Homo sapiens: one gene and its partner. The protein of the gene in region 1 interacts with the protein of each later gene in a pairwise test. Each region holds a gene or a part of one and is shown in the gene's direction. Other genes may lie near its edges. The genes, in order: TMCC3 and TEX28.

What was found.
Region 2: the proteins of TMCC3 (region 1) and TEX28 interact in binary tests that used the Homo sapiens proteins (3 or more experiments, as listed by UniProt).

The regions. Positions count from the first base shown.
Region 1 is NC_000012.12:94,645,749-94,656,937, reverse strand, and holds the start of TMCC3 (transmembrane and coiled-coil domain protein 3), read left to right. Parts: upstream 1-6,380; 5' UTR 6,381-6,507; coding exon 6,508-6,585; intron 6,586-7,334; exon of another isoform or gene 7,335-10,500; intron 10,501-11,189.
Region 2 is NC_000023.11:154,283,584-154,294,632, reverse strand, and holds part of TEX28 (testis-specific protein TEX28), read left to right. Parts: intron 1-2,427; coding exon of another isoform or gene 2,428-2,515; coding exon 2,516-2,527; intron 2,528-4,812; exon of another isoform or gene 4,813-4,881; coding exon of another isoform or gene 4,882-4,902; intron 4,903-6,225; coding exon 6,226-6,953; intron 6,954-11,049.

The DNA.
Region 1 (11,189 bases):
CTTTTATGGAGACGTCACTGGGTGGGCATGATTGACAACCATGTAGAAATGTGACTGGACAAAAGGGTATATGATCTAGTACTAAGAGACTGAGTGGCGAGACCCAGCAAGGCCTGTCTGTTCAGATTCTTCTTGGCTTCTCTGTGCAGCATTCTTTCCTCCAGGGTATGGAGCAGGACCCCTTCTAAAATGAACCTTATGTCCTACAGTCAGACAAGGTAGGTCAGAGAATTTCTTCATGGCCAGCTGCATGACAGAAAGGCGGGGGAAGATTCCTTCCTTCAGGAGAGAAAAGAGCAGCTGGAACAAGGGTAGGATAAGGCTTCTGAGGCTGGCTTCTGGGATCTAAAGTGCCCCAAAATCATGACAAGAGACTATTACAGGGGCATTGGTAATTATAAGCCAGGAACCATGGGTGAAAACCAATGTATATATATATATAATAATGTCACTCATATGAATGAAGCCATCTTGGACACCCTACCCCCCCCCCCCCAGTGCCACATGGAACAGAGAAAAGCCACCTCACCTCCCTTGGAGGCCTGCCCAGATTGCAGAATCATGAGCTAATGAGAGGTAGTTATTGTTGTAAGCCAACACCTTTTTTTTTTTTTTTTTTGAGATGGAGTCTCGCTCTGTCATCCAGGCTAGAGTACAGTGGCGTGATCTTGGCTCACTGCAACCTCCGCCTCCCGGGTTCAAGCAATTCTCCTGCCTCAGCCTCCTGAGTAGCTGGGATTACAGGTGCCCATTACCACTCCCAGCTAATTTTTGTATTTTTAGTAGAGATGGGGTTTCACCATGTTGGTCAGGCTGGTCTCGAACTCCTGACCTCAGGTGATCCACTCACCTCTGCCTCACAAAGTGCTGGGATTACAGGCGTGAGCCACTGCACCTGGCCAAGCCAAAGCATTTTAAGGTGGTTTGTCATGCAGCGATAGCAGATGGAAAATGCTGGATCTAGTGCTCTAAGGATTTAGTAAGAAGTCTTTCTCCGTTTCATGGCTCTGCTTTCCCAGGGAGGCTGTCTTTATATGGTGGAAGGATGTCCACTACAGCATCAGGCTTGCATTGTACCAGCTTAGCAATGCCCACTGGAAGGGCATAGGCTTTCCCAGCAGTTCTGACAAAAGTCTGGGGATGACTCTCATCTGCTCTGATTAGCTCATGTGCCCATCCCTGCACAAGCCACAGTGACTCTGACTGGCCAAGGCTGGATGACATGCCACTCTCTAGATCCAAGGATGGGAATGGTCCACCTTATCTAAGCCATTTGGATTAAAAGTAGGAGTAGGGTAGGTCCCAATAGAAAACCTAGGTACTGTCTTCAGAATAAGGGGTGGGATCCTGGGCAGGCTGAAACAACAAACACGCACTACAAAAGTCAAGTGTAGTCCTACCTCTTTCCATAGGCCTTTCACTCCAAACTTTAAACTATTACAGCTCAAATGACCTGGTCTCTTCTTTGGTGCTTTTAGCATCTGCTGTCTTGTTGTGCTCCTTCCTTATAGTTTGCAAGTAAATTCTTATTTCACACCTTAGGTATGAACCTTTGTATTTCTTATTGTTCTGACTGCATTTGTTATTTTAACAGTGCGATATTTTCCATACTTTCTGCAGAGAGAGGCTCTTGGAGGTATCAAAAGCACAGAATTCTTACATTGACAGGAGGAATTTGCACCTGCGCTCTCCCTCTCTCTCTCTCTCCAGGGCTGACAAAACCCTAGGCATTGGCATTGCGTCCAAAGGAGGGGATGTGGTCTATTTTCCCCTTGGGTTCTGCCTCCCAAAAGGAGACCCAGATGGTGATCAGCACTGCTTGTTTTCTTTCTGTTCTGGGGAGCTTGCTCTTCTGCTATTTAATTTGTATATTTTTAAAAAATAATTTTGTATGAGTGCCCAGCAGAGCAGCTTTTGGGCAACTAGCTTATGAAATAAATTTAAATGATCTAAAAAAGAACATCCTTTGTTAATTGACATTTAAATGAGCCTAATAAAGTTTTAATTTATCCTTCTCATTGAGGGTCAGCATTCCAGGATGGAATTCTAAGAAACATCAAGACAGTAATAGAAATGGAAAGTAGATGCCTGTTGGTACCCCCAAGCAAAGCCCAACCCTGGTTTGTCAGGGCCTCTCTGAGTTTATTCACACGTAAAGTGCTATTATGTTTATTTATTTGAGAAGGTACCCCTAACTGGTGATTTGAATTCCAGAATTAAGGATATCACCATATCTGTTCCTTTGAGACTCTGTTACCTTTAAAATTTTAAATTATTCTTCACTATTGTGTGTATGTATGAATGAATGTACATCCAGTGTACCAACAGTCATTTGTTAAAGAGCATTATATATTTATAATTGTGTACCCCTTTTCTATTGAAGCCTTCTTCATCTCCCCACCAGAGATACTGTCCTGAAATTTGTGTTTATTATCCTCTTGCTTTTCTTAAACTTTACAGGAAGGCTGGGCGTGGTGGCTCACGCCTGCAATCCAGCACTTTGGGAGGGTGAGGCGGGTGGATCACTTGAACTTGAGGCAAGGAGTTCAAGACCAGCCTGGCCAACATGGTGAAACCCCATGTCTACTAAAAACACAAAAATTAGCCGGGCATGGTGGTGCACACCTGCAATCCAGATACTCAGGAGGCCGAGGCATGAGAATCACTTTAACTTGGGAGCCAGAGGTTGTAGTGAGCTGTGATCGTGCCACTGCACTCCAGCCTGGGCGACAGAGTGAGACTCTGTCTCAAAACCAAAAACAAACAAACAAAAAAACCAACCAAACAAAAACTTTACATGAATCTTTTTTTTTTTTTTTTTGTGGAGACAAGGTCTCACTATATTGCCCAGGCTGGTCTCGAACTCCTGGGCTCAAGTGATCCTCCCACCTCAGCCTCCTAAAGTGCTGGGATTATAGACATGAGCTACCACACAGCCTACATGAATCTTACTGCAAGTAATTTTTTGTGGCTTGCTTTTTTTGTTTCTCAGTATTGTTTGTGAAATTTGTCCATATTGATTTTTTTTTTTAGCTGGAGTTTGGTCTGTGGCTTATTTTTTTACTTTATTGTTTATTTTCATAAGCAGAAGTTTAATTTTTTTAATGTCAAACCTTTGTGGTTTATGCTTTTTGTGTCTTGTTTTTTTTTTTACTTGAGATGATAATAATGATATTCTTTCATTTTCTTCTGACAATTTTAAGTTGTGTTTTTTCCACTTTAAGTCTTTAATCTGTTTTTTTTTTTTAATTTTTAATTTTTTTAGAGACAGGTCTTGCTCTGTTGCCCAGGCTGAATTCCTGGCCTCAAGTGAACCTCTTGCTTCAGCCTCCTGAACAGCTGGGATTACAGGTGCAAGCCACCATGTCCAGCTAATTTTTTTTCTTTATTTTTCCTTTATCTGGTATTGGTTTTTGTTTATGCTGTGAGGTAGAGATCAATTTTATTTTCATCCAAGTGAAAAGGTAGATCATGCCACTCCTTTGCTCAAAAATTTCCAAATCTTCCCATATTCCCCAAAATTAAAGTTCTTTCTTTTCTTTTTTTTTTTTCTTTGAGTCAGAGTTTTGCTTTTGTTGCCCAGGCTGGAGTGCAATGGCATGATCTTGGCTCACTACAACCTCTGCCTCCTGAGTTCAAGCGATTCTCCTGTCTCAGACTCCTGAGTAGCTGGGATTACAGGCATGCGCCACCATGTCCGGCTAATTTTGTATTTTTGGTAGAAACAGATTTTCTCCATGTTGGTCAGGCTGATCTTGAACTGCTGACCTCAGGTGATCGGCCCACCTCAGCCTCCTGAAGTGCTGGGATTACAGGCGTGAGCCACCACGCCCTGCCTAAAATTAAAGTTCTTAAAATAGAATGAAAGTCCATATATGATCTGGCCCTCTGAAATGTCTCTGACCTCATCTCTTTCCAGTGAACACTGGCCTCCTTGCTCTTCCTTGAACACTCCCGAAATGTTCAGGGCCCTTGACTTTCTGTTTGTCTGCTGGAAATTTTCAATGTCTATACTTCTGGCTTCCTCATTTCCCAAGTCTCTGCTCAAGGTCACCTTATCATGGAGGACTTCTCTAGCCACCCTAGCTAAAATCTCCCTCCAACACACACACACACACACACACACACACACACACACCCCAGCGTTTGGTATTTCTCTTCTTTCAAAGAACTTACCTGAAAAACTCTCTGGGTCTAGTATAGTTGTGTGTTGGGGTAGTGGTAGATGGGTATTTTTAAAAGTGTTGATTTAATTTTTTGAATGGCTTAAGGACTACATGGGACTTTCAATTTCTTCTTAAGTTAGTTTTAACCCTTTCTCTACAAAAAAATATATTTTTAAAATTAGCCAGAAATGGTGGCACACACCTGTAGTTCTAGCTACTTGGGAAACTGAAGTGGGAGGATCCCTTGAGACCAAGAATTTGAGGCTGCAGTGAGCTATGATTGTGCCACTGCACCCCAGCCTGGGCAACAGATACCCTATCTCTAAAAAACATTTTTTAAAAAATTTTACTTTCTGAATAGTTAATATATGCCCACAGTATAAACATTCAAGTTTCAAAAGTATACACAGTGAAAATTAGATCTCTCTCCATCTCTGCCTTCTAGCTACCTGGTTCCCCTCTCTTGGCATCAATTTCTTGTCTGTTTCCCTAGTTTCTTATTTATCCTCCCAGATATATGTCGTGCATGTAGAAGCACATAACATATATTGTTTTTACATAAATGGTGGAATGCCATATATATTATCCTGCACATTGCTTTTTTTCCACTGAACCATGTATGTTAGATTTGCTTCCAAAGCTATTCATAGAGGGCTGCCTCATTTCTATTCCAGTTACCTAATATTCTATTGGATGATGTACCATCATTTATTTACTTAGTCTCCTTCTGAAGGATAATTAGGCTATTCTGTCTTTACAGTGGCCTTCTAAGAAGCCAGTGTGTTTTGCCCATCTTCAATCGCTGCTTCACCCTGATGTCAGATATACCTTCTCCTTAAACTTCCATTCCCATGCTATCATTTCCCTGTTCAAGAATTTCCAACAGCTACCCAGTTCCCACAGAATAAGGCTGAACTTCTTACCCTTGAACGAAGATTCTGCATGGTCTCTGCCTTCTTTTCCATCATGTCTTCCTGTTCCTGAGGACACTCCCCAAAACTGATGACTTGAGGTTTTCCCAAATGTACCTCTGATTTTAGGGGCTCCAAAGTTTTCTTCAGCCTGCTCTACCGTCCCCTTTGAACCCTATGAGGGAAATCCTTCCCTCCCCCTGGACTGGTCACACTGGGCTCCAGGTCCTCTCTGGAACAGCTGCACTTTAAATATTTCAGCCCAGTCTCCCACTGTACACCCTACAGAGCCAGAACAGGTGTTTTGAATTTTGTTTGGGGTTACTGATATTTAAATTGTTCACCAATGGTCCTTCCTCTTCTAAACTCCAAATTCCTTGTGGGCAGGGACTGATGACTGGGAATGGGGAATACTAAAATGAAAAGATATCCTGACTTCCAAGTAGCTTAAAACATAAAGGTAAGCTGGGCACAGTGGCTCACGCCTGTAATCCCAGCACTTTGGGAGGCTAGGGCAGGTGGATCACGAGGTCGGGAGATCGAGACCATCCTGGCTAACATGGTGAAATCCCGTCTCTACTAAAAATACAAAAAAATTTAGCTGGGTGTGGTGGCAGGCGCCTGTAGTCCCAGCTACTTGGGAGGCTGAGGCAGGAGAATGGCGTGAACCCGGGAGGCGGAGCTTGCAGTGAGCCGAGATTGCGCCACTGCACTCCAGCCTGGGTGACAGAGCGAGACTCAGTCTCAAAAAAAAAAAAAAAAGAAAGAAACATAAAGGTGAGCCAGATATGCAAAATTAAAATACACAACACAGTAGGATCTTAGTTTAAGTGGAAGTATGCTCTATGCTCAGGGCAATCATGGTCGGGGGGAGTTTTTATTTTATTTCATTTTTTTACTTTAAATCTCTGGTCTCTAGTCCAGCGTCTGGTACATGGCAGCTGCCCAGTAAGTGCCTGTTGAATGGAGAATAACATAAAAAGAGGCATTTAAGGCAAGTGTCAACTTCTTGCAGTAACAGTCACCTTTTATATATAAAATAAGTCAACAGATAGTGTAGTGTGGATGTCGCTTATCTTTTGGGGAGAAAGAGGGCTGTGTGGGAGGGGATGGAATCAACTTTCAGCCAGGGAGGGAGGCGAAGACATTGCCTCCCGGGTCGGGGGTGGGTGGGGGGTCCAGGCGGCTGCGGGGCGCGGGAGAGGCGGGGAGAAGGGAAGGGGGAGGAGACTCTCGCCTCCTGCCCCGCCTCCCCCACCCCGCGGCGGCGGCGGCGCAGGGCGGCCGCGCGGGTGTTGGCACCAGAGGCAACAGCTGCAGCAGCCGCGCCGCCCCCTCGCCCGCGGCTCCCAGGGTGATCCCGAGCACAGCCGGTGGCTCGCGGCGCGGCAGCCCCAGAAGACGGGAAAGTTCGCGGCCGGAGCGCGGAGATGCCGGGCAGCGACACGGCGCTCACCGTGGACCGGACCTACTCGTACCCCGGCCGGCACCACCGCTGCAAGAGCCGGGTGAGCGCAGCGGGCTGGGGGGCGGCGGGTGCGCGCGGGCCCGGGGGCGAGGCGGGCTGGGGCGGCGGCTCAGTGCTAACCCACGCGCCCCCGGCGTTTCGCCGCCGCCCTCCGCTGCCGCCGGAGGTCCGTGCCTCCCCGATCCTCCGAGCTAAAAGGGTGGGCGTCGGGGGCGTCGGAGCCCAGGCTGCGGTTCTGGGATCCCAGGTCCGCCTGCCCCTCACGGCGCCCAGGTCCCCGCGCGCTATGCGGGACGCCCGGTTCCCCGACGGCCCGCGCTCTGCTGTCCTCCCCGCCAGGGAGCGCCCGCCGCTCCGCGAGGGAATCCCGCCACCCGGCCACCCGCGGCCCCGCGTCTCCAGGTCTCCGGGGTCTCGCCCTGGGTGTGACGGTGCCCTCCCCGCCGAACGTCCCGGCGGCCGCCCTGTCTCCCTGTCCTCGGGGCGTGTGGCCGGAACCCGAGCGCGGTGCGCAGCCGGAGCGCGGGGAGGCGGCGGACGGGCTCTGCCCAAGTGAAAAGTCAGAATCTTTGCGCTGCCTCTCCGGAGTTTCGAGCCGAGCCGAGCAGGCGCCCTCGCCATTGTTTGCAGTGTAATTTGCTGTTGCTGATTTTGGCTGTGGGCGAAAATAGCTCATTCTGAGCCTGCTGCAGAGACGAGCCCTGTAGGGCTTCAAAATAAAGACGGAGGCCGCAGCCCAAGCGCGGGTCTGTCCTGGGAGAGGAAGCCTTCGCCCTCCCCGGTGAATACCTTTGCCCTCCCGGGCTGTTGAATCGTCGAGGCTGGATGTGAGGCTCTGTAACCCGTTCTCCCCAGGGCTGATTGAAGTGCCATTTAACAAAGCACCTCCTCCACGCTGGCATCTGTTCTGGCAGGAGGCACCTGGAGTTGTTCTTTGCTCCGCCAACTACTTACTCGCTTGTCCGAGAACTGGGGATTTGGGTGTCAGCCTCTGTGTAAAGTTCACGGAGGGAGAGCCGGGCTCAGATTCTGGCCTGCCACTTCCAAGATCGAGAGACCAACTGGATGGAAATAGTAGCAATAGTGACGGGGTTGTGTCGCGGCCCTTTGTGCAGGATTTTGGTCTTCACTCATAATTTGAAGTAGTAATCGATTGCCCCAGAAGTGAAGCAATGAGTCTCTGGTTTATTTGCCCGCTTTCCCTTTTTCCTTTAGCATCTGTTAATCATTTTGGAAGGATGATTTGAGTTTTTACAGATTGAATATATTTGGTGGAATAATACCTCATGCACTCATCTCAATCTTACAATTCTCTTGTTTTTGCACTTTGTGTATAAGTTTCGTAACAGTTTGCTGTGAAAATAACCAGAAACTCCATTTGGAATAAACATTGAAGAAATGTGCTTACCCACAGGTAGACATTTCTTCTTGGATAGCTGTAATGCTAGTTAACAGAACTATGAAGAAAAGGAGATCATCTTCGAATGCATTTGTAATTGAGAGGATTCTGTAAAGTTAATATTGCAGACTTGAAATGTGAAAGCTTGTTTTTTCTTGTCACAACTGTGATCTTCTTTGTGTAAACAAGATTAGTAATCTTAGCGGGATGGATGGCTCATTGTCAACTCATTTAAGTGGTTTGGCAAAACTCATGCAACTTTACAAAACTCACTCTTCATAACCTGTAAAATGGTGGTGATAAAGTTTGTGCCTCAACTGCTTAGGTGGAATGTGGTAAAGCAATTGTGTAAGGTAACTGCAGAGTGTTTCTGCCGCATCTGCCACTGTTGCCTGTCTACGCCAGTCTTTTCTATTAAAAGGTCAAAACCTTATGTGATTTCTTGATTTTCTTTAAAATTCTGCTGACGGGCCGGGGGCGGTGGCTCATGCCTGTAATCCCACCACTTTGAGAGGCCGAGATAGGTGGATCACCAGGTCAGGAGTTCAAGACCAGCCTGGCCGAGATGGTGAAACCCTGTCTCTACTAAAAATACAAAAATTAGCCGGGCGTGGTGGTGGGCGCCTGTAATCCCAGCTACTCGGGAGGGTGAGGCGGAGAATCACTTGAACCCGGGAGGCGGAGGTTGCAGTGAACCGAGATCGCGTCAGCCTGGGCACAGAGCGAGACTCTGTCTTTAAATAAATAAATAAATAAATAAATAAATAAATAAAACAATTCTACTGACAATGTTATTGTACCTGCTGCCTTGTATTGTTAGCATGGAGATACCCGATTTTTAAATAAGCTGTGTATTAAAACTGAGTTAGACATTATATGTGCGGATTATCGTAAATTAGCACATTGGGCCAGTCAGATCTAGTGAAGAGAGGAAATCAGAGAAGGGCTAGAACTTCAGCAGACCGTAATCACAAATTCTACTACAGTGATGCTGGACTTCTTGAGGTCCCAGTTGAAACTTCTCAGCTATCTGCTTTTAGGTTTTTTATTGTTGAGACAGCGAGGAATAGGTAGAACTAGTGAAATTTTTGTAAACTCATAATAATAACTTTTCTCAAGCAGGGTTGATGTAATTTCAAGTCTGTCCTGAGGCTACAATAAGTCTGTTGTAATGAAGGGAAAGCAACAATTTTACTGTGCAGAAAGTATTCATCCATTTAAATGATCGTAGCTCCTGTATTGTGGAACTCACTTGGATGCAGCTGTAAAGATATGTTTTCCTGACACCCAGAACGTATGTGATGCGAGAGGAAGACATCGAGTGCTAATTTCTTGATGTCACCATCTCCTTGGGAGGAAACTAGTATAGGATTTAAAAAGAACCCTTTTATGAACTCATTTGGTGAATTAGCTCCCCTAAAAATGCCAATGAGAACTAGGGGGTCATGGGAAGAGTCGACTAATCTTTCAGGGATATGGAGTTTCTGCCTAGAAGTGGGCAAAGACTCCATGAGATGAAGTTCTTAGTTACTGAATGGTCATTTTTTAAATTCAAAATCAATACCTGTTGAGATAACAGGGAAACTACATGGTCTGTCTTGCTGGGCTTATTTCAGCCTTTGAGACTGGAATAATAATGAGGCAGTGTACTCTTTCAACATTGCAGAAATCTATTTTTACATCTAGGTGGACTGACCTAGATAACCCCTCCCCCCTTAGTGAAAATGTAAGTAATGAATTCTGTGATTGTTGCTAAGCTGACAAGTCAGGATCATTCACATTTTAAAACTTCATCTTTGTAAAACTCAGAAATGGTGCTTGTTAACTTGATGCACATATCTCTCTACTTTAGAAGAAAGAGCATCCATAATTAGACTCCTACTTTTTTTTCATGCCCTAGATAGTTAAAGCCTATCATCTTTTTAAGAATACAGGCCGTCTGCTTTCTATACAGTAACTGGCTTTTATTAATGATGTGTGAATTAGGTTTTCTTTTAGTTGGTTTTCATTTTAAGTGTTCTAAAATGCCCTCTCCAGCCACTTGAGTATAGTGGTGGACAGCTGGGGCTCTGGACCTACGTGGGTTGTATTCTGGCTCTTCGAGCTTCTTAACTGGGTGACCACTGGGGCAAGGTCCTAAATAGCCTTTCTGAGCCTCCAGTTTCCCATCTGTAAAAGAGGTAATACTCCACTCTTCTGGGAGTGATTGTGTGTCTTAAATAAGAAAGTATTTGTTTTTTAAAAAAAAAAAAAAAAGCCAGGCACGGTGGCTCACGCCTGTAATCCCAGGACTTTGGGAGGCCGAGGCAGGTGGATCACCTGAGGTCAGGAGTTCAAGACCAACCTGGCCAACATGTTGAAACCCTGTCTCTACTAAAAATACAAAAATTAACCAGGCATGGTGGCAGGTGCCTGTAATCCCAGCTACTCGGAAGGCTGAGGCAGGAGAATCTCTTGAACCCGGGAGGCGGAGATTGCAGAGAGCTGAGATCGTGCCATTGCACTCCAGCCTGGGGGACAAGAGTGAGACTTCCTCTCAAAAAAAAAAAAAAAAAAAAAAAAGGTGTGTGCTTTCAAATATTAGCTATTTAAAAAAATTTTTTTAAATTTATGTTCTCTCACTGGGTGAAAAAGCTGTATTTGTCTATATGTCAGGTTAATAATTTTTTTCTATTTTGTTGGTGCCACTACTAATCAGAACTGCTAGTCATCTTGAGTGCCTGCCCTCCCCCATCTCTCTAACCTATTAGCAATACCACCGCACCTTTCTCTGACATTTCTCTGGAATTGGTTTCTTCCATATCTCCCAATCATCCCCCACCTTAGTCACTTATGACCTTCACCAACTTCTGTTCCATCCTGCATGCAAGGACCATATTATTTTCCCTACAGAACCATTTGCATTAGGATAGTCCCCAGAATACAGATCTTGTACCAGTGCTGTTTGCTACCAGTGTAATCTTGGATCCTGTAATCACTCTAAGCCTTAGTTCCTACTTCTACATAATAGGGGTGTTTTGAGGAATAAATTCAGTAATGTCTATAAAATGTTTAACTCCATGCCGGGTGCACAATAAGAAATCAATAGATGTTAACCACTTTTACTATAGGCCGAGCATCTCAATCCAAAAGCCAAAATCCAAAACTTTTTGAGCGTCAACATGACGCTCAAAGGAAATGCTTACAGGAGCATTTCTGATTTCAGATATTTCTATTTGGAATGCTCAACCAGTAAGTATAATACA
Region 2 (11,049 bases), on another chromosome or scaffold:
ACGGGTTTTCACCATGTTGGCCAGGTTGGTCTCGAACTCCTGACCTCAGGTGATCTGCCCACCTCGGCCTCCCAAAGTGTTGGGATTACAGGTGTGAGCCACCATGCCAGGCGGTGGTGGGCACCTGTAATCCCAGCTAATGGGAATCTGAGGCAGGAGAATCACTTGAATCCGGGAAGCGGAGGTTGCAGTGAGCTGAGATGGCGCCACTGTACTCCAGCCTGGGCGACAGAGCAAGACTCCGTCTAAAAAAAAAAAAAAAGTGGCTGGGCACAGTGGCACACGCTCCTGTAATCCCAGCACTTTGGGAGGCCAAGGTGGGTGGATCACCTGAGGTCAGGAGTTCCTGACCAGCCTAACATGGAGACACCCCGTTTCTACTAAATACAAAAAAATTAGCTGGGTGTAGTGGCACATACCTGTACTCCCAGCTACTTGGGAGGCTGAGACAGGAGAATCGCTTGTACCTGGGAGGTCGAGGTTGCGGTGAGCCAAGATCGAGCCATTGCACTCCAGCCTGGGCAACAAGAGCAAAACTCTGTCTCAAGAAAAAAAATTTAACAGGCCACCTAATTGCGATTAAAAAAAAACCAAAACCCTGAATCTGTTTAGATTCCCACTTGCAGGGTATGTGACATCACCTTCTGCCACATTCTCGCCAGCCCTGGACATTGTTAGGCTTTTTAATTTTTGGCGTTCTGGTGGATGAGAAAATAGTATTTAATTGTTGCTTTTCGCTTACTATTCCCGGATCACCTTGCAATTACATGTTTTATTATACGTTTACTGTCTTTTGTTTTTCGTCGTCTGAGATGTCCGTGGCTACCCTTTAATGTCTTTATATTGGGTTATTTGCTCTTAGTTTACTGATTTGCAGTTCTTTATATATTGTGTTGATTAGCCCTTTATCTATCAGATATGTTTCAAGCCTTTTTTTTTCTTGTTTGCTTTTATTTATTTATTTTTTGAGATGGGGTCTCAGTCTGCCACCCTGGCTGGAGGGCAGTGGTGCGATCATGGCAGCCTCGACATCCCCGGGATCAAGCGATCCTCCCGTCTCAGCGTCCTGGGTAGCTGGGACTACAGGTGTGCACCACCACTCCAGGATAATTGTTGTATTAATTTTTTTTTTAATAGAGACGGGGTTTCGCCATGTTGCCCAGGCTGGTCTTGACCTCCTGAGCTCAAGAGATCCACCCACCTTGGCTTCCAAAGTGCTGGGATTACAGGCATGAGCCAGCACACCCAGCCCTTGTTTTTTTTTCTCCCCCTTTCTTTCTTTCTTTTTTGTTTTTGTTTTGATTAATCAAGTCCCATTTTTTTCTCCTCTTGGTTATTTGGATGTTATGTACATATGTAGCTTCTTTTCTAGTGATTACTTTTTTTTTTTTTTTTGAGACAATCTCACTCTTGTCAGTCAGGCTGGAGTGCAGTGGCGCAGTCTCGGCTCACTGCAACCTCCGTCTCCCCGGCTCAAGCAATTCTCCTGCCTCAGCCTCCCCAGTAGCTGGGATTACAGGTGTGTGCCACCATGCCCGGCTAATTTTTGTATTTTTAGTAGGGACAGTGTTTCGCAGTGTTGACCATGATGGTCTCAAACTCCTGACCTCAAGTGATCCACCCGCCTTGGCTTCCCAAAGTGCTGGGATTACAGCTGTGAGCCACCACGCCCGGCCCGGCCCCCCCCCCCCGCTCTTTTTTTTTTGAGACAAGGTCTCACTCTGTCACCCAGGTTGGAGGGCAGTAGCACAGTCACAGGTCACTGCAGCCTCTACTTGCTGGGCACAAGTAATCCTCCTGCCTCAGCATCCTGAGTAGCTGGGACCACAGGTGCACACCACTGCCCTGGCAAGACTTGCTTTTTAAACAGTTGTTGAATTCTTACATTTGTCAGTGGTGTACTGAACTCCTTCATGTCTAAAAATGTCTTTAGTCTAACCCCACAGTTGACAGTTGGGGTGTAGAATTTTAGGCTGGGAAATCATTTTTCCCTCAGAATTTCGAAAGCAGCACTTCATTGTCTTTTTTTTTTTTTTTTTTTTTTTTTTTTTGGGACAGAGTCTTGCTCTGTCGCCCAGGCTGGAGTACAGGGGAGTGATCCTCGGCTCACTGCAACCTCTTGGGTTCAAGCGATTCTCTTGCCTCAGCCTCCCGAGTAGCTGGGATTACAGGCGCCCACCACAATGCTGGCTAATTTTTGTATTTTTAGTAGAGACAGAGTTTCCTCATGTTGGCCAGCCTGGTCTCAAACTCTTGACTTCAAGTGATCCGCCTGCCTGGGCTTCCCAGAGTGCTGAGATTACAGGTGTGAGCCACCGTGCCCGGCCAGCACTTCATTGTCTTCTAGTTCCCCATGCTGTTGCTGAAGTCTGAAGCCATTCTGACTTCTGATTCTTTGAATGTGACCTATTTTTTTCTCTCTGACAGTTATTCTCTCAGTGTATCGAAGATATCAGTCAACTATCTTCTGGATTGCATTGATGCTATTGAGAAGGCAGCCTGCAGTCTAAAAGTCATGGTTTTAAAGGTAATCAGCTTTTTTTCCTCTGGCTGCTTTTAACATCTTGTGTCGGCCGCGGGCGGTGGCTCATGCTTGTAATCCCAGCACTTTGGGAGGCCGAGGTGGGCGGATCATTTGAGGTCAGGAGTTCCAGACCAGCCTGGCCAACATGGTGAAACACTGTCTCTACTAAAAATACAAAAATTAGCTGGGCATGGTGGCGGGCGCCTGTAGTACCAGCTACTTGGGAGGCTGACGCAGGAGAATCGCTTGAACCCGGGAGGCAGAGGTTGCAGTGAGCCGAGATCACGCCACTGTACTCCAGCCTGGGCGACAAGAGCGAAACACTGTTTCAAAAAAAAAAAAAAAAAAAAAAATCTCGTGTCTAGGTGTGGACCTATTTCTGTCTTCCCTGCTTAGGATTTATTGGGCTTCTTGAATTTGTGAATTTGTGTCTTTCTTCAGTTCTGGAAAGTTCTTAGGGAGTTATCTCTTAAAATGTTGCTGCTGTGGCCGGTCGTAGTGGCTCATGCCTGTAATCCCAGCACTTTGGGAGGCCGAGGTGGGTGGGTCACCTGATGTTGAGAGTTCGAGAACAGTCTTGCCAACATGATGAAACCCCATCTCTACTAAAAATACAAAAGAATTAGCTAGCTGTGATGGCACGCGCCTGTAGTCCCAGCTACTCGGGAGGCTGAGGCACGAGAAGTGCTTGAACCCGGGCAGCAGAGGTCGGCCGTGAGCCGAGATTGTGCCACGGCACTCCGCCTAGGCAACAGAGTGTGACTCCATTTCAATTTAAAAAAAAAAGAAGAAAAATATGTATATATTGCTGCTGCTTCATTCTGTCTGTCTTCTCTCTCTGGTGTGACAATTGGATTTTTGTTAGACCTACTCATGCTACCTTCCATGTCTTCTATTTTTCAAGTTTTCTATTTTTTTGTGCCTCTGTGCTGCATTCTGGATACTTTTTTTTCTTTCTTTCTTTTCTCTTTCTCTCTCTCTCTCTCTCTCTCTCTCTCTCTTTCTTTCTTGGGATGGAGTTTTGCTCTTGTTGCCCAGGTTGGAGTGCAGTGGCGTGATCTCGGCTCACTGCAACCTCTGCCTCCTGGGTTCAAGCCATTCTCCTGCCTCAGCCTCCCAAGTAGCTGGGATTACAGGTGCCCACCACCATGCCCAGTTAATTTTTTGTATTTTTTAGTAGAGACAGGGTTTCACCATGTTGGTCAGGTTAGCCTCAAACTCCTGACGTCAGGTGATCCACCCGCCTTGGCCTCCCAAAATGCTGGGATTACAGGCGTGTGAGCCACCGCGCCCGGCCTGGATACTTTCTTTAGCTCCTCTGTACAATTTACCAACAGTCTCTCCAGCCATATCAAATCTGCCATTAAATCCATCAATTGAACATATTATTATTTATTATTTATTTATTTTTTGAGACGGAGTCTCACTCTACCACCCAGGCTGGAGTGCAGTGGCACGATCTCAGCTCACTGCAACTTCTGCACCCCGGGTTCAAGCGGTTCTCCTGCCTCAGCCTCCCGAGTAGCTGGGACTACAGGCGTGTGCCACCACGCCTGGCTAATTTTGTATTTCTAGTAGAGATGGGGTTTCTCTGTGTTGGTCAGGCTGGTCTTGAACTCCCGACCTCAGGTGATCCGCCCGCCTCGGCCTCCCAAAGTGCTGGAAGTACAGGTGTGAACCACTGTGCCAGGCATTTTTTTTTTTTTTTTTGTATTTTGTATAGACGGGGTTTCACCATGTTGGCCAGACTGGTCTTGACCTCCTGACCTCCGCCCGCCTCGGCCTCCCAAAGTGCTGGGATTACAGGCATGAGCCACCACACCTGGCCTATATTGAACATTTAAATAGTTTGAAAACTGTGAAATCTGGCATATGTATATAAAGGTGCAGAAAACATTGATGTATGTTTTAAGAAGTAACGATAAGGTGAACACACATTTAACCACTACTCAGGCCAGGCACCCCAGCCTCCACAGTCACCCCAGTCATAATCCCCTTCTCCCGCTCTAGTGGGAACCACCATCCTGGGGTTTCTGTTGCCAACATCCATGCTGCTCTTTAGCTTTCCTGCCTGTGTAGTCATCCCTACACAATATTGTTTAGTTTTGCCTGCTCTTGGAATTTATGTAAATGGAACCATATATAGTATGGATTTTCTGTCTGGTTTCTTTTGTTCAACATTATGCTTGTGAAATGCATTCATGTTTTTCAAGGCTGTAGTTCATTCTCATTGCTGTACAGTAGTATGTTGTTGCATATATTACAGTTTACTTACACTTTCTGGGCAGGTGGTTTGTTGCTAGTTGTTGGATATTGAGAACATCAGTGTACTTGCCTCCTGGGAATATCGCCTATGAATGCAGTTGCTGGATCATTTGGTAGGTATATCTTCAACTTTGTGATACTGTCAAGTGGTTTTCTAAGGTGGCTGTAGTACAAATTTGCTTCCCGCCAGTAATGATTGAGAGTTCCTGTTGCGCTATATCCTTGCCAACTCTTATTGTTGTTAGTCTGTCTGAGTTTGACCAATCTACTGGGTACATAGTGGTATCACTTTGCATTTTAAAAATTGAGGTATAGGCCAGATGCAGTGGCTCACACCGGTAATCCCAGCACTCTTTGGGAGGCCGAGGCGGGAGGATCACTTGAGGTCAGGAGTTGGAAACCAGCCTGGTCAACATGGTGAAACCCTGTCTCTACTAATAATACACGAATTAGCTGGGTGTGGTGATGCACACCTGTAATCCCAGCTACTCGGGAGGCTGAGCCATGAGAATTGCTTAAACCCGGGAGGCGAAGGTTGTAGTGAGCCGAGATTGCACCACTGCACTCCAGCCTGGGTGACAGAGTGAGACTCCGTCTCAAAAAACAAAAAAGTAGAAACGGAACAGAGGCTGCACCTGAGCTGCCCCCCACCTCCCTCTCCTAGCTCCTTGCTCTGGTGGGCTGGGTTCCAGCTATGCTGCTCTTGCCATCTTTATTTTAGAGGTAAGAAAACTGAGCCTCAGAGCAGTTTATTAACTTGCTCAAGGTCTCAGAGTGGTAGAGCCAGGATTTGAACTGGGCTCTTCGTCAAAGGCAATGTTAATCCCCTCACCATGTGAGAGACTCATTCTTTTGTGTTACAGTAGAATTTTCTGCCGTAGACTGTCAGCTGTATGAGATCAAGGAATGTATCTGGCTTCTGTACCACGTGGTAGGCACTCAGAGAAAGTATGTGTTGAATGAATGATTGGATGAATGAATGAACCTGTTAGGAGGCAAATCTCTCTGCCTAACCCTTCCTGTCTCCCTGGGAGTAGCAATACAGCAAGCTGTAAGAGTTGACGGAAATAAGCTTATTCCATACTTTACAAGAACAGTTCTTTATAAATGAGACCCACAATTGGTAATTTTTGGAAGAGAAAATAGGAGTGCAGTGCAAAAACAGGCAGATGTAGAAGGGAGTCTGGCCACCTGTGGGTCTTAGTGAGGCACACATGTAGAGCAAGGAGTCAGACGCTGAAAAGGAGGGGAGAGGGGCCCTGAAGATGAGCATCACCTCCTCAGTCTGTGTCGGGCCCATCTTGAATGCACAAATCTTGCGTGTGTAAGTATCCATGCATATGTGGAAGTGTTTTATGGAGTCATAACGTGTCCAATTCTCCCACACTTTGCGGCTCACAGAGCACCGTATTGTGATTTCTTGTTTCCCAACGTAGGCGGAACACACCAGGAGCCCCAGCGCAACCCTCCCCTCCAATGTGCCTTCATGCCGGTCCCTGTCATCCAGCGAAGACGGCCCCAGTGGCCCTTCCAGCCTCGCAGATGGAGGCCTAGCCCACAACTTACAGGATAGTGTCAGGCACCGCATCCTCTACCTCTCAGAGCAGCTGAGAGTGGAGAAGGCCAGTCGGGATGGCAACACTGTGAGCTACCTCAAGCTGGTATCCAAAGCAGACCGGCACCAGGTGCCGCACATCCAGCAGGCCTTTGAGAAGGTGAACCAGCGCGCCTCTGCCACCATCGCCCAGATCGAGCACAGGCTCCACCAGTGTCACCAGCAGCTCCAGGAGCTGGAGGAAGGCTGCAGGCCCGAGGGCTTACTGCTGATGGCAGAAAGCGACCCAGCCAACTGCGAGCCACCCAGTGAGAAGGCCCTGCTTTCAGAGCCCCCCGAGCCAGGTGGGGAAGACGGGCCGGTCAACCTGCCTCATGCCAGCAGGCCCTTCATCTTGGAGAGTCGCTTCCAGAGCTTACAGCAGGGGACGTGCTTAGAGACAGAGGATGTGGCCCAGCAACAAAACCTGCTGTTGCAGAAGGTAAAGGCAGAGCTGGAAGAAGCCAAGAGGTTCCACATCAGCCTCCAGGAGTCCTATCACAGCCTAAAGGAGAGGTCTCTGACTGACCTGCAGCTGTTGCTGGAGTCCCTTCAGGAGGAGAAGTGTAGGTGAGGCCTTGGCTCTGGGGACTGGAAGCAGAGGAGGAACCGCTCCCAGGAGCCACCTATGGGAGGGTGAAAGGGAGCCAGGACAGGAGCCTGGAGAGCCAGGGTGAGGGGCCAGTTGGAAGAGCAGGTCCATGCTTCTTTTAGCGACTGGGCCCTGCAGTGGGGCGAGCCAGCCCTCTCCCTGCAGTCCCACACCTGCCTTGACCCTTGCTAGCGAAAATGCTCCAGCTTGGCAGCCCCTGCCGGGTGGTTGCAGCGGCATAGCGGCTGGCCCTGACCCTGTGGTGGCAGGGGACAACATGGGGGTGGCAAGAGTCCGGTAGACACCTGGCACTAGTTAGGGAGGTGGCGTCCTTTGGTCCCAGTCGGCTGGGAAGGTGGGAGTCAGGACCGGAGTCGCCTCGCCAGCTCTGGTCTCTTCACATGTGCTCCTAGCTGAGCTGGGGCACAGGCCGGGTCTCAGATACTTATTTCAAAAATGACTGCCTTCTGGTGAATGCTTTCTCCGCACCGTGCAGTAGCTCGATTTTCTTTTTCTTTTTTTTCTTTTGAGATGGAGTCTCACTCTGTCGCCAGACTGGAGTGCAGTGGCACGATCTCGGCCCACTGCAACCTCCACCTCCCGGGTTCAAGCGATTCTCCTGCCTCAGCCTCCCGAGTAGCTGGGAATACAGGCGTGCACCAGCACATCCGGCTATTTTTTGTATTTTTAGTACAGGCGGGGTTTCACCATGTTGACCAGGATGGTCTCAATCTATTGACCTCGTGATCCGCCTGCCTCAGCCTCCCAGAGTGCCGGGATTACTGGTGTGAGCCACCTCACCCTGCCCTAGCTCGATTTTCTTTCCCTCTAAGATAAGGCTAGGGCCTACCAATTGGAGGAAAAAAAAAAAAAAAAAAAAAAAGGCAAACCCAATCTCTCAACGGATTCTCTCCATTCCTATTGGGACCGTTCTCTGGGTTTCCATGGGCCCTCAGGGGGTGCCACATTCTGTCCCCCTCGCTGCAGTCTGTGGCTAATTAACGCCAGTCCCTCCAGCGTCCTGGCTAGGGAGGCAGCGATTCCCTTAGGTGAGCCAAGATTCTCAGCATTTGCATGAAAAGAAGAACTCCGCAGTCCTTTTAGTGCCTGATGCAGGGGAAGCGGCGTGTGGGAATCATCCTCTTTAGTTTCCCCAGGGAAATCTTGCCAGCGTTTACATGGCCTAAGAATCTGTTAAAGGACAATCAAAGAATATTACAGGGCAACCACTGTCAATGAGATGACTAGTCAGAGTCACAGGCGTCTCTTGCAGATTATTTTCATAGGACATGGCAACCAAATCTAAAATCTTGGGAGCATCAAAGACCCTTTTGTGAAAATCACACTTACCCGGTCAGCTTTCTATTAAGCAACAGCAGAACTTGGTGGCAGTTACAAACTTCCCCGTATGTTTCCAAGCCACAGGGGCCAATGAGAATGCTGTGCTCAGGTAAACTCTTAACCCCTCTCAAATCCGAGTCTTTCGCCCGCTCTTGATACAGCGGTGACTACCGGGGAGCAGGGCAATACCTCTGTCTCTCCCCCTCTCAGACTTTTGCTGCAAATTCTAGAAGCCTGCACTTCTGACCCGGTACCCCCCATTGGACTGTGACATGGGATGTCTGGTTGTTTGCTGCAGCAGCGAGCCTACCCTTACTAATGTTCATCGTGAGCAGAAAAGCAGGTCTACAGGGCCCAAGCAGGTCTACAGGAGGAGAAAGGGCTGCTGATGATTTTTCACTGTTGTCACGGGCTCGTAACTGAGCTGGGGCACCAGGTTAAGCAGCCTTGTTCTTTGGCCCTCAGACGCCTACTTTATGGTTGGGGAAGCAGAGTCTCACGGAGGCACAAGCAGGCTACGTGGCTGCTAAGTGCGGACCTGAGAGCATTTCACCACACCCTGGCTGTGTGGCTAAGTTAGATGCAGGGGACACAGGAGTTCATGGCATTTTAAAAACATATACTTCCGTAAAATCTTCTTCAAAACTTTTACATGATCTGGACACAGAAGTGTTTCAACCAGCCAGGCTCCCTGTGACTGTTGCGTCCCCTCTGGTGCATCACAAACTGAGAATCCATACTGCAAGTCCTGTGCTGTTTATCACAGTTAAATCCGTTTGCTTTCAGGAGGGCTGTTGTGGTTTTTATCATTATGGTTTCTTTTTAATTTGGTCTCGGCATGTCTCTACTGAGAGTGGCCATAGCCGAGATACCCAGTTTCTAGGAGATCCCTGACCCGTGGGAAAGTTAGGTTCGGATGTGTGTGTCAGGGGAGCCACAGTGAGGAGGCAGACGAAAATGCATGAAACAGCAGAAATGGGCTGGGCGTGGGGGCTCACGCCTGTAATCCTAGCACTTTGGGAGGTTGAGGTGGGCAGACTGCTTGAGCTCAGGAGTTTGAGACCAGCCTGGGCAACATAGTGAGACCCGGTATCTACAAAAACATCAAAAAATTAGCTGGGCGTGATGGCGCGTGCCTGTAGTCACAGCTACTCAGGAGGCTGAGCGGGAGCGGGGATCCCTTGAGCCCGGGAGGTTGAGGCTGCAGTGAGTCATGATTGCACCACTGCACTCCATTCTGGGTGACAGAGCAAGACCCTGTGTCAAAAAAAAAAAAAAAAAAAAAGAAATGTATGACTCAGATCGAAGAGATGTTAGGTGTGCTGATGGGAGGCAGAGGGGAAGTCTGGAGGCAGCAGGGAGCTGATTGAGCTCATCAGCTGTGCAACAGCGAAGCCCAGAACGGAAGGGCGGGGAAGCTTCCGGGGCTGTGCCTGTATTAAGGTCACAGGGTGTGAAGTGATCCCACAGGCTTTCCTGCGGGGGTTGTGGATTGGCTGGTTTAAAGAAAACATGCACGAGGAGGAAACTGATTTACATGACTCTGGTGTTGAGCATTAGGTCTTATCGTGGTCAGCAGCCGTGGGATGTGTTGGGTTTTGGGTCAGTGAGGCGAGGACCACGTGGGCTATGTCGCAAACAATCACATGACAGGGAGGGAGGGGTGTTATCTAGGGCAAAGGTGACAGGGTACAACTGCTAAAGTTGGATGCTGAGGCAGCAACTGTATTAAACGCATTTATGACAAGGGCTTACTTAAAAAAATTGATGTAGAATTCACATAATTTCACGTAATGTGAAATTAACCATTTGGAAGCATGTAATTCAGTGCATTAAGTACATCTGCAGTGTGGTTCAACCATCACCTCTGTCCGGTTGTCTAACATTCTCATCACCCCAGAAGGAGACCTCCAGACTCACTACACGGTCACTCCTAGCCTCGGCTCCAGGCGTTCCCTAATCTGCTTTCTGTCTCCGTGGGTTTGCCTCTTCTGGACTTTTCATATAAATGGGACCATACGATATGTGGGCTTTTGTGTCTAGCTCCTTTCACTGTTTTCAAGGTTCACTAATGTTGTAGCACGTATCAGTACTTCATTCTCTTGACGGCTGACTAATATTCCAGTGCATGGGTAGACCACATTTTGTTTATCTGTCCATCAGTGGATGGAGATTTGAGTTGTTTCCACCTTTTGGCTATTGTGAGAAGCCCTGCGCTGAACACTCAGATACATGCCAGTTGTTTGAACACCAGTTTTCAATTCTTTGGGGTCTATAATCAGGAGTAGAATTGCTGGACCCCGTGGTGACTCCAGGTGTAGCGTTTAGAGGAGTCTTCCCACAGCAGCCGCGCAGCTCCATCTTCCCACCAGCAATGCAGAAGGCTTCCAGTTGCCTCACATCCTTGCCAACATTTGTTGTTATCCTTTTTTTTTTTTTCCAACAGATGTAACTGTGAAGTGGTATCTCATTATGAGGGCTGGCTTTCTTTTTTATTTTTCCTGAGTCTTTGGATAGGCAAAAGTTCTTTCTTTCTTTCTTTCTTTCTTCTTTTTCTTTTTCTCTCTTTCTTTCCATCTCTCTCTCTCTTTCTTTCTTTTTCTTTCTCTCTTTCTCTTTCTTCCTTTCTCTCTGTCTCTCTCTCTCTCTCTCTATCTCTCTTTCTTTCTTTCTTTTTCTTCAGGGTCTCTGTTGCCCAGGCTGCATGCAGTCATAGTTCACTACAGCCTTGAA